Regions from separate parts of the Homo sapiens genome. Here region 1 is linked to region 2. The links come from fine-mapping of genetic effects on gene expression. Tissue or cell type: T cells. Region 2 holds a variant in brackets; the other region holds the start of a gene. All regions are shown on one strand. Distances are from middle to middle.

Region 1 (5,000 bases), 36 kb before region 2:
CCCTGCCCCATCTCCTCCACACTAGTGCGGGAAATCACCTCCCCAATGAGGGGTTCCCAAGCCTCCAAAGGCAGAAGGAAGTGTGCAGGACCTGTTTCGAGGACCTCACCCAGCACAAAAAGAGAAGAACTGGAAACACCTTTCATCTTGCAAGTCTACAGCCCTCACCCAGGGGAGCAGGATGGATTCTTAGATCAGAGGATGTGCCCTCTAGGGAAGGGAACCTGAGACATATGACAAGAGGAGCTATCCTGGGACAGCCCTGACCTCACCCTTGCCTTGGGCTGGCCCACAAGTCTTGCACACACCACACCAGACCAGGAAGTGCACACACGGCCTGCTTTGAGGAAAGGCAGATCCCGAGTCCGGGGAGGTCGTCTGTGCTGGGGAAACCGGGCTGAGGATGCTGCTTGCCCATCGCCACTGAAGGCACCCAGTTCACACAGCCCTATCTGGTGTTGGGGCCCGACTCACTGACTATGACTCATTGACAGCCTGAACTGTGGGCCAACTGACAAGCAGGGCTCACTCCGCAAACACGCGCTGGGCTCTCCAGCTGTGCCGCCCCCCACAGGGCCTGCAGCCCGGGACAACACCGGCCATGTGAATGGTGGGTACCCATTGGATATGGGCGGGTCAGCACAGGTATGTGGGGTGCAGCCATTGCTTGGGGACCCACGGTGATGCTCTGTGCTCCCTCTTCCCACAGTAACTGCATTAAAGTGTTTCATCTGAGCTTTGTCATCATCTCTGGGGGCACTGCTGACCTGAGTCTGGGGAGGCAGGCGTCTTGATCCAGGTCTGGTTACAGAGGGGCACCCCACATTCATTGTCAATGAATGAATGAATGAAGGCTCTGTATGGTATCTGCAAGTGAACAGAGCCTGTGGGGAGACAGAAGGTGGGCACAGGCCTGCCCCTGTCTTTACAGCACCCTAGCACCCAGGCCTTCAGCAGGGCAGGTGAGGTTCCCACGCTAGGGCCCTCATCCCATCCACCCTAGAGTGAGAGACCCTCCCGGCCTCAGACTCAGCCACCCACTCCACACCCAGGGCAGGGGTTGGGGATGTGTCTAGGAGGTCTAAGTATCGGTGAAAACCACATCCTACTTCCCCGTCCTCCCACGCCTGTAAGACTTAGGAGACATAACACCTTCCGCCCCCATTCTTGCAACTTTCAGGAACCGGACCCCTGGGTGACTCCAAATTTGAGGTCTGGGGTCAGCAGAGGGTGTGCTCAGTGGGCCACCGCCCCGAGGTGGCCCCTAGTGCTGTGGGAAAAGGCTTATTCTAAGCCCGCGCCTTCCAGCGGACAGGCGCCGTGGTCGCCGGGCTTTGCAGGGCCTCGAGCGGCGGGGCTGGTGCAGAAGCGCGCGGCAGTCCGGGGAAACCCGTCGGACTCCTCAGCCCGCACGGCACCTGCCCCGGCCAAGCAGGCTCCGCCCATTTCCTGCCTGCACTCCCGGAGGGAGTTCCGTCCGTCCCGCGGTCTGTCGGTCCGGTCCCTCCCGCCCCAACGTCAGGATTCCAGAAGGAAATGGGGCGGGGGCACCGAGGCGGGATGTGACCTCGGCCCCCTTTCGGCCCCACTGCAAAAGCGGGGGAGGGTTTTCCCCGTGCGCAGGAAAAGGTGACCCGAGCGTAGTGCCAGCCTGGACACAGGCGCCCCGGCTTGACACCCCCTCACCCCAAGCCAAGGGCGCGCTGACCCCCAAGGCCTGAGGCTGGCTGCCCCCTAAAGCAGGACAAAGGCTACGGGACCCCGTTGAGCCGAGACATCCGCCGAATACCCCCAGCCACCGCCGCTCGAAGCCCGCCGGGTCCCGCCCCGCCCCCGTGCCTCTGGGTCCCTGAGACCCCCGCCCGAGAAATCCCCGCTCCCCAATCCAGCCCCGCTCACCGTCCACATCCCGGCGCTCCCCGAAGCCCGCGCGCACGGCCCCGGCGCGGCCACGCGGGGGGCTCAGCTTGGACCTCAGCTCGGTGAACATGGGGCCCGCGGGTGCCAGGCCCGCGCACACGCCCCTCGCCGAGTGCAGGGCGGCCGGTGTGGCCGGCGGGGAACGCGCGCCGCCGCCCCGCCCCGCCCCAGCCGGCCCCGCGCCCGAGCCGGTCCCCGCGGCCCGCGAGTGTGCGCGACGAGGCACCTGCCGCCGAGCCCTGTGTGCCGGGCGCGCTCCGGGAGCTCCGAGGTGTGTCGGCGGCGCGCGGGCCTGCGTGCACCAAGGCTGTCCGCCAGGGCGAGGGGCGTCCGTGCGCCCCTGGGCACGGCTCCGCGGAGGAGAGTCCCCGTGAACCTGCCGGGCGTCCTCTGAGGTCGGGCCCCTCTGTGCGTGGGGGTGGGCTGAGGGGCATCTCACAGGGGTCTTCTACCTACCGGGGCCAGGACAAGGGGCAGGTCAACGCCTCCCACACACTTTCCTCGGTCTCCTACGTCTTTACTCGCCTTCAAATAGGCACCCGCTTCCCCGGAGAAACCAGCTTGACTCTTGCTTACCGCCCACCCCACTGTGAACATCAGGGTGGTTCTCCCTTCCCTCTGCAGCCCCAGAACCTGGCTCAGTGCCCGGGGGAGAGGGGGCGGTACAGTGCTCTGTAACTGAAAGGGGCTTGGCTTGCCTGGAGATGGGGCAGAGGGGAACTCCAAGGAGGCTGTAGCAGGCCGGAGCGGTGTGTTTGCTCCAGGACTCCAGTGAGAAGTGCTGAGATGGGGCTGGGCTAGGGAACTGTGGTTGCCTGGTGCAGCAGCAGGCCAGGCTTGCAACCAGCTATTCGGCTTGCTCTGCCCAGGAGCCTGGGTGCTCTCCCTGGGTGTATGTAGGGGCTCTGGAGGATGTCTTACAGCAGGAGGACCAGAGATGCACACAGACATGTAGAAATGCATGCACAGAGTACAGTCATGCACTTGCACCCAAAACACGAGCACACGTGACCTCTGTGCACACACCCCACTAATCACACACACAGAATTCACCCACATGCTTGACAGCCATGTTCATGTACTGACGTGTTCCCGACAGCTCAGCTGCGGTTATTTATTTCGTCAATTAGCTCTCCAGGAGCTAAGGATGTGGCCCTCACCAGAATGTCCAAGGCATGTTGGCGGGCGTGGGTGGGGTCTCTAGTCCCACTGGAGGGACAGATGCCTGAATGGGGGTTCAAGAATATGAGTGCTAAAAGCGTAGGGCAGCAGTGTGCGCACAGGACGCACACAGACAGGTGTGCCCATAACCAGTACACACAAGCTCTACACAACTGGACAGGGTACAGCTCTGCTCGGACAGGGCGCACCAGGGGCGAGGGCGGGCAGCTGGGCTGGTTCAGAGGGAGGGGGCCATGGGTTCAGAGGGAGGGGACCATGGGTCCCACTCTCACAGACAGGTCTCCGGACTGCATCAGAGCACTCGGGAAGCAGCAATGCCCCAGGCTGTTTTTAGCCCCCAGGGGCCAGTTAGGGTCCCAGTGCAAGCTCGACCTAGCTTCTTCCGCCTCTCCACGAGGAGGCGCTCCCGCGCACGCGCCTACCACGTTCCTGCCCCCTAGCCGCGGCCGGAAGTCGTCGAACCAGGACGTCGGGACTTCCGCCCAGGGAATCAAAAGTGGGCGGGGCGTGTGCGGACTGAGCGCTCTGCTTCCGGGGCGCGGGTGACGCGACGACGGCGACACTTTGCTACGGAGTGCATCGGACGTCGAAGCCTAGAGTCTCTGCGTCTTTCCCTCTTCCGCTGCCTCATTCCTTTCCTTCCTAGCCTTGGTCGTCGCCGCCACCATGAACAAGAAGAAGAAACCGTTCCTAGGGATGCCCGCGCCCCTCGGCTACGTGCCGGGGCTGGGCCGGGGGTGAGGCCTGGGGCGGCGCGCGAGGGGCGGGGACCCGGCTACAGGAGCGCAGTGCTTTGGGGCGTGTTTGGGGGCGGGGGTCTATGGCCGCGCAGTCTGAAAGACGCTTGGTGGATCGGCTTAATCCCTGCAGGAAGCAACGGGCTTTGGGGTCAGGACATACCTGTGTGTGCACCCTGCTTGCCGCCTAGATGTGACACATTGACTCTCAGCCCAGTGTTTTGGTCTGTAAGATGGGTAATGCTGTATACGGTCTGCAGTGAGGAGTAGAGGAATCTGACGTGTAGTGGAAACACGCGACCACCTTCCTCAGGTCGGGCTGACACTCCCCCCCCCCGCCCGCCCGCCCGCCCCGCCTTAAGCGTGCCTGGGTCCTCTATGCCTGCAACACAGATGACCACCGTGCGTTGCTGGATAAGTGAGCAGTCGTTATTATCCTATTTGGCTATTCATTTGATGAGGAACACTACTGGGTTTTTCTTGGTGGTGGTATTATATTGGAATCTGTGGGGCACACACAAGCTCACTAAGGAGGGTTTGCTATTACCATAAATAAGTACGTAAAGAGGACCAGATTTAGAACCCAGTGCTTAATGGAGAGTAGCATTGGAGCCAAGTTTAGTAAGAGAGCTGGACTTAGGGCTGTAGAAACGGTGACGATAGAAGAGAAACTGACATTCTGCGTGTGGGAGTTCAAAAAAAGTGAGGCAAGGAGGAAGCCCAGGGAACAGGAGGGAGTCCAGTGTGAGTGGAATGTACAGCGAATAGAATAGAGCTCAGGAGGTTGGAGGGGCCTTGAGCGTCAGGCTAGAGCTCCTGGAGACGTTAGAAAGATCATGACCCTTCAGAATTATTATTATTATTATTATTTTTTGAGACAAAGTCTTGTTCTGTCGCCCAAGCTGGAGTGCAATGGTGCGATCTCAGCTCCCTGCAATCTCTGCCCCCCGGGTTCAAGCAGTTCTCTGCCTCAGCCTCCTGAGTAGCTGGGATTATAGGTGCCCGCTACCACGCCCGGCTAATTTTTGTATTTTTAGTAGAGACAGGGTTTCACCATGTTGGCCAGGGGGGTCTTGAACTCCTGACCTCATGATCCACCCGCCTCCGTCTCCCAAAGTGCTGGGATTACAGGCGTGAGCCACCACGCCCGGCCCAGAATTT
Region 2 (7,340 bases):
ACAGGAAGTCTCACGGCTTCTTTCTTTGCTAGTAGAAATGATACACCTACGAGAGGAGGACAGGAAGTCTCACGGCTTCTTTCTTTGCTAGTAGAAATGATACACCTACGAGAGGAGGACAGGAAGTCTCACGGCTTCTTTCTTTGCTAGTAGAAATGATACACCTACGAGAGGAGGACAGGAAGTCTCACGGCTTCTTTCTTTGCTAGTAGAAATGATACACCTACGAGAGGAGGACAGGAAGTCTCACGGCTTCTTTCTTTGCTAGTAGAAATGATACACCTACGAGAGGAGGACAGGAAGTCTCACGGCTTTCTTTGCTAGTAGAAATGATACACCTACGAGAGGAGGACAGGAAGTCTCACGGCTTCTTTCTTTGCTAGTAGAAATGATACACCTACGAGAGGAGGACAGGAAGTCTCACGGCTTCTTTCTTTGCTAGTAGAAATGATACACCTACGAGAGGAGGACAGGAAGTCTCACGGCTTCTTTCTTTGCTAGTAGAAATGATACACCTACGAGAGGAGGACAGGAAGTCTCACGGCTTCTTTCTTTGCTAGTAGAAATGATACACCTACGAGAGGAGGACAGGAAGTCTCATGGCTTCTTTCTTTGCTAGTAGAAATGATACACCTACGAGAGGAGGACAGGAAGTCTCATGGCTTCTTTTACTCTTCCCCTCTCCCCCACACCCTTTTTTTTTTTTTTTTTTTGAGAGGGAGTCTTTCTGTCACCCAGGCTAGAGGGCTAGAGTGCAGTGGCACGATCTTGGCTTACTGCAACCTCCACCTCTTGGGTTCAAGCAGTTCTCCTACGTCAGTCACCTGAGTAGCTGGGATTACAGGCACCCGCCACCATACCCAGCTAATTTTTGTATTTTTAGAAGAGACAGAGTTTCACCATGTTGGCCAGGTTGGTCTCGAACTCCTGACCTCAAGCAACCTGCCCGCCTTGGTCTTCCCTGTCTTTTATCTTTGTCTGTAGACTTAAGGCTATAGAAAAGTTTCCAAAGATGATCTAACTTAGGAAGTAGGGCTTGGGTTCCCTCTAATGCCTTCTTTTAAGGAGTCACCCACTGAGTTATGTTTCTCTCAAGAAAAATAAATAATGAAATTACTATTTTCTGTTATATTTTATGACAGTTTGTCTTTCTTTCCTTCCTTCCTTTCTTCTTCTTTCTTTCTTTCCTTCTTTCTTTCTTGAGACAGGGTCTCGCCGTGTTGCTCAGGCCGGAGTGCAGTGGTGCAGTCATGGCTCACTGCATCCTTGACCTGGGCTCAAGCAATCCTCCCGCCTTAACCTCCCAAGTGGCTGGGACTACAGGCGTGTGCCACCATGCTTGGCCAATTTTTTTTATTTTTATTTTTTGTCTTGTTATGCTGCCCAGGCTGGTCTTAAACTCCTGGCCTTAAGCAATCCTGCCACTTCAGCCTCCCAAAGTGTTGAGATTACAGGCATCAGCTGCCATACCCAGCATATGACAGGTTATTAAGCTATAACTAGCGTTCTACAGAATCCACCCATTTAAAGTTTACGATTCAGTGGTTTTAGTATATTCACAGAGCTATGCGCTATCACCACAATCCTAGAACCTTCTCATCACCCCAGAAAGAAATCCTGTGTCCGTGAGTTGTTGCTCCCCATTTTCATACCTCTGTAGCCTTTTGTTTTTGTTTTTGTTTTTTTTTTGAGACAGGGTGGGTCTCTGTCTCCCAAGCTGGAGTGTATGGTGCAATCAATCTTGGCTCTCTGCCACATTTGCTTCCTGGGCTCAAGCAATTCTCCTGCCTCAGCCTCCTGAGTAGCTGGGACTACAGGCATGCGCCACCACACCTGGCTAATTTTTTTCTATTTTTTGTAGAGACGCGGTTTTGCCATGTTGTTCAGGCTGGTCTCAAACTCCTGAGCTCAGATGATCCACCTGCCTCGGCCTCCCAGAGTGCTGGGATTACAAGCGTGAGCCACCGTGCCTGTCTAACCTTGTTTTTTTACTTTCTTTCTCTACACATTTTTTTCTGGACATTTTATATACAGATGTTCAACTTATGGGCTTATATCCTGATAAACCCATTGTAAGTTGAAAATATCATAAGTCTAAAATGGATTTGAGGCTGGGTGCTGTGGCTCACACCTATAATCTCAGCACATTGCGGGGCTGAGGCGGGTGGATCACTTGAGGTCAGGAGTTTGAGACCAGCCTGGCCAACATGGTAAAACCCTGTCTCTACTAAAGATACAAAAAAATTAGCCAGGCATGATGGTGGGCACCTATAATTCCAGCTACTCGGGAGGCTGAGGCAGGAGAATTGCTTGAACCTGGCGGAGGCAGAGGTTGCAGTGAGCCGAGATCGTGACACTGTACTCCAGCCTGGGCAAAAGAGCGAGACTCTGTCTCAAAAAATAAATAAAATAAAATAAAATGAAATAAAATGCGTGTGATACACCTAACCTACTGAACTTTACAGCTTAGCCTGCCTACGTCAAACATGCTCAGAACACCTACCTTAGCCTACAGTTGGGCAGAGTCATCGAACGTAAAGTGTTGAATAACTCACGTAATTTATTGAATGCTACGATGAAAGTGAAAAACAGACTGGTGGTTTGAGTCAAAGTATTGCTTCTACTGAGCGTGGTGGCTTTTGCATCGTCCGACACCGTGAGTGGAATCACACGACACGTGGTCTTTTGTGACTGGCCTTAACTTAGTGTGTTTTCAGGGTTCCTCCATGTTGTAGCATGGAGGTATTGAAATCCTTTGCCTACTTTTACATTGGATTGTGTCTTTATTATGGTCTATGTATTATTTTTGTCTGTTGTTTTATTATTGAGTTGTAAGAGATGTTTTTATATATTCTGGATATATTGTCACTTATCAGAGACATGATTTGCAACTACAGATGGTCCCTGACTTCCCATGGTTTGACTTTTGCCGTGGTTCAAAAGCAGTTTGCATTCAGTAGAAACTGTCCATGGAGGAAGAGCCAG[C/T]GCAGTTTGCGTTCAGTAGAAACTGTCCATGGAGGAAGAGCCAGCACCTTTGCCGCAGGCCCCTGAGGGTCTGGGTGCTGGGTCCTTGCCCCACGCATTCTTCTCACCACTGACCTTTGTGCCAGCGTCTCTGCCTCAGATCCTTGCTCTTGGCTCTGCTTTCTGTCTGGGATGGTTTTCTGGTGCTGGCAGGGCCCTGGGAGGGTCTGGGAGGCATGTGGCTCCGGTTGCACTTTGCTCACGGTCCATGTCGTGGTCCCCCATGTTGGCATGCCGCAGTGGTGCCTGTGCTCCTGCACCCTGTTGCTCTGGCTGGGTTATTGTTCTCTTGTTGGTAGACACATTCTCTTGCACACATGGGAATATATTTGTCACATGAATGCCTTAAAGTAGAACTGCTGGGTCAAATATGTGCCTGTTTTATTTTGATAGAGAATGAGAAATTGCCCTCCATAGAGATATGTGCTTCTTTGCAGTATAAGATTTATGCCCCCTTCACCAAGTGAGCCAGTCAGCACATGTTTCAATGTTGCTCATCTGATACGTGCACAATGGTACTTAGAATAGTTTAATTAGCATCTTGAAAATAAGAATAGGGGCTGGGTGTGGTGGCTTATGCACTAATCCCAGCACTTTGGGAGGCTAAAGCAGGAGGGTTACTTGAGACCAGGAGTTTAACACCAGCCTAGGCAACATAAGGAGACCCTGTATCTATGAAACATAATGTACCATTGAGCATGGTGGTGCATGTCTGTGCTACTCGGGAGGCTGAGGTGAGAGTATCCCTTGAGCCTGGGAGTTGGAAGCTGCAGTGAACTATGATTGTACCACAGCACTTCAGCCTGAGTGACAGGGAGAGACCTTGACTCTCTCTCTTTTTTTTTTTTTTCTGAGACGTAGTCTTGCTCCGTTGCCCAGGCTGGAGTGGAGTGGCGTGATCTTGGCTTACTGCAACCTCCGCCTCCCGGGTTCAAGTGATTCTCCTGCCTCGGCCTCCCGAGTAAGCTGGGATTACGGGCACCCACCACCACGCCTGGCTAATTTTTGTATTTTATTTTTTAGTAGAGACAGGGTTTCACCAGGTTGGCCAGGCTGGTCTCGAACTCCTGACCACGTGATCCACCCTCGACCTCCCAAAGTGCTGGGATTACAGGTGTGAGCCCCCACACCTGGCTGAGACCTTGTCTCTTAAAAAAATAAAATAAAAAGGCTTTACATTTCTTTTCACATGTTTGAAAGTTGTTTGTATTTTTATTTTCTAGTGAACAGTGTGCCTATGTCCTTTGTGACATTTCTCTATTGTTTTTTCTGATTGGCGTGCAGTAGACTCACTTCCTCAGATCCCCAGTAGGCAGTGTCAGCATCTTGTGCTGATGTCTGTCAGTTTTAACCGTTCAGGAACTCCGTACTCCCCGTTGGGAATCTGCAGCTCTGATTTCCAAAATCACAAATAAGTTTTGTGTTCCTCTTTCAGGATGCCGAGGAATGTGACAGGGCTGGGAGTGTGGCCACCTGCCAGGCCGTCATGCGTGCCGTGATTGGGATTGGGATTGAGGAGGAAGATCGGAAGCATACCTGGATGGAGGATGCTGACAGTGTGAGTTGGCAACAGGGGCCTTTGTCCGTAATATGGAGTCTCTGCTTGTGGGAACAGCAGGCACCTTATAAACTACTAGGCTATTTTAAAACTCTTTTTTTTTTTTTTTAAATCTGAGACGGGGTCTTGCTCTGTCGCCCAGGCTGGAGTGCAGTGGCGCTATCTCAGCTCACTACAACCTCCACCTCCTGGGTTCACGCCATTCTCCTGCCTCAGCCTCCCGAGTAGCTGGGACTACAGGCATGTGCCACCACGCCCAGCTAATTTTTTGTATTTTTAGTAGAGACGGGGTTTCACCGTGTTAGCCAGGATGGTCTTAATCTCCTGACCTCGTGATCCACCCCGCCTTGGCTTCCCAAAGTGCTGGGATCACAGGCGTGAGCCACCGCGCCCGGCCTCCCAGAGTGCTGGGATCACAGGCGTGAGCCGCCATGCCTGGCCTCCCAAAGTGCTGGGATCACAGGCGTGAGCCACCGCGCCCGGCCTCCCAGAGTGCTGGGATCACAGGCGTGAGCCACCGCGCCCGGCCTCCCAGAGTGCTGGGATCACAGGCGTGAGCCGCCGCGCCCGGCCTCCCAGAGTGCTGGGATCACAGGCGTGAGCCGCCCTGCCCGGCCTCCCAGAGTGCTGGGATCACAGGCGTGAGCCGCCGCGCCCGGCCTCCCAGAGTGCTGGGATCACAGGCGTGAGCCGCCGCGCCCGGCCTCCCACGGTGCTGGGATCACAGGCGTGAGCTGCCGCGCCCGGCCTCCCACGGTGCTGGGATCACAGGCATGAGCCGCCGCGCCCGGCCTCCCAGAGTGCTGGGATCACAGGCGTGAGGCGCCACGCCTGGCCGCAGATTTGCTTTCTTACTCTGTTCGCTCTCATGCACTTACCTCTTATTTTTTTTTCTGGAACTGTTTGACAATGAATGAGTTGCAGATGTGGTGCCCTTTACCTTAAACACTTTGGTGTGTATTTCTTTAAAAGAGGACGTTCTCTTACACAGCCATAGCTCAGTTATCAAAATCAGGACATTGATGTTGGGACAGTGCTGTCAGGTAACTTCAGACCTTACTCAAATCTCACCCACAGGCTGGGCATGGGGCTGACGCCTGTAATTCCAGCACTTTGGGAGGCCGAGATGGGCAGATCGCTTGAGCTCGGGAGTTTGAAACCAGCCTGGGCAACATGGCAGAACACCATCTTTACAGAAACAAAAGCCAGGCATGGTGGTGCACGCTTGTAGTCCCAGCTACTCAGGAGGCTGAGGTGGGAGGATCACTTGAGCTCAGGAGTTTGGGGCCGTAGTGAGCTGTGATTGCGCCACTGCACTTCAGCCTGAGTGACAGCAAGACCCTATCTCAAAAAAAGAAAAAGTCTCACCCGTTGTCTCTGTGTCCTTTTAGCAGAAGAAAAAACCAACTGTCTTCTGTGAGGAATACAGGGTCATCCTCAGGCTAGTCTGGAAGAGAGCCTCAGCCTTTGTTGTTCCTGAGTGTGAATTTTTTGAGGACCACGGGCCAGTGATGCTGTAGACTCCTCTTTCATCTGGTTCTCTGTGGTGTCTCCTCCGGGTTGGGTTGAGGCTTCTTGGTGCATCATACGGAGAGGTGTGCACCTGTTCAACTCCGACCGTCTGGTGCGGGCAGTGGCCGCAGGTGTTTCCACTGTATGGTTGCTGTTTGTTTCTTTGTTATTATTAATAAGTATTTTGAGGATCCATTAATGATGCTTCTTGGCCTGAATCAGTTATTTCTGTGGTGTTTGCTAAATGGTGATTTTTTTTAAATCTTTTTTTATATATTAAATTTTTTTTGTAGAAACAGTATCTCACTATGTTGTCCAGGCTGGTTTCGAACTCCTGGCCTCAAGTGATCCCACCTCAGCCTCCCAAAGTATGTAGGATTACAGGCGTGTCACTGTGCCTGGTCACACCTGCATAATGATTTTGTGAACAGTTTCTCTTACATTTTATTAGTTGGAATTCTACAGTAACGAAGAGCTTCACTTTCTCCTTCATCCGTGTGCGTTCACTTCCTTCCATCTGGATTGGTCAATGGCTCCTCCTTTGGTCCTTGGAATCAGACCCCACTGCTGGCATTGACCGTGTGATACACACATGATTCTTTTGCACCCCGTGTGGCGTGACCCAGAGCTTGTGTGCCGGCTGGGCCATCCTCCTGCCCCATGTATGCTAAAATACACACATCAATCCTTAGGTGAGTTAAGACGCAGGGCAGCGGTAATAGTTTTTGTTGTTGGTTTTTTTTTTTTTTTTTTTTGGGACAGAGTCTCACTCTGTCTCCTAGGCTGGATGGAGTCCAGTGGCACGATCTTGGCTCACTGCAACCTCCGCCTCCCAGGTTCAAGGGTTCAAGCAATTCTCCTGCCTCAGCCTCCTGAGTAGCTGGGACTACAGGTGCCTGCCACCACACCTGGCTAATTTTTATATTTTTTATAGAGATGAGGTTTCGCCATGTTGGCCAGGCTGGTCTCGAACTCCTGACTTCAGGCCATCCACCTGCCTCAGCCTCCCAGAGCCACTGCTCCTGGCCTGTTTTTCTCTTATTATTTTGTCATCTCTTTCACATACACTGGAGTAAGCACAGCTGTTTTTCAAAGTGCTCGTGATGCTAGAGTAAGGAGGACAGTGTTTTCTGTGCCCAGAAGTGTGCTGTGGTGCTGCTTCCCTCCCGGACACCAGGGCCCTGGGCACAGCATCACTTGATCCTGTGGGTGTTCAGGCCACTCTCGGGTTGCTTGTGAAGGTCCA

The links. PIP is the estimated chance that this variant, and not a neighbour inherited with it, causes the effect.
Region 1: SAMD10 starts here. The variant in region 2 is fine-mapped to the expression of SAMD10 in T cells (TOPMed, PIP above 0.99). The same link has a PIP of 0.9 or more in blood mononuclear cells and whole blood.

The regions. Positions count from the first base shown.
Region 1 is chr20:63,977,478-63,982,477 of GRCh38, forward strand. SAMD10 (sterile alpha motif domain containing 10) reads right to left here and starts at 2,165. Exons shown (of 5, transcript NM_080621.5): 1 at 1,900-2,165. The coding sequence starts at 1,990. It overlaps PRPF6 (pre-mRNA processing factor 6), which reads left to right and starts at 3,655. Exons shown (of 21, transcript NM_012469.4): 1 at 3,655-3,839. The coding sequence starts at 3,769. RefSeq lists enhancers at 1,319-1,613, 1,599-2,114, 2,710-2,769 and silencers at 1,960-2,279, 3,840-3,949.
Region 2 is chr20:64,012,264-64,019,603 of GRCh38, forward strand. It overlaps PRPF6 (pre-mRNA processing factor 6), which reads left to right. Exons shown (of 21, transcript NM_012469.4): 12 at 4,460-4,582. Among named protein-coding and RNA genes, the nearest start is that of C20orf204, 20 kb to the right of the region's middle. RefSeq lists enhancers at 1-378, 4,436-5,635. The variant C/T (reference allele first, on the strand shown) is at 2,986.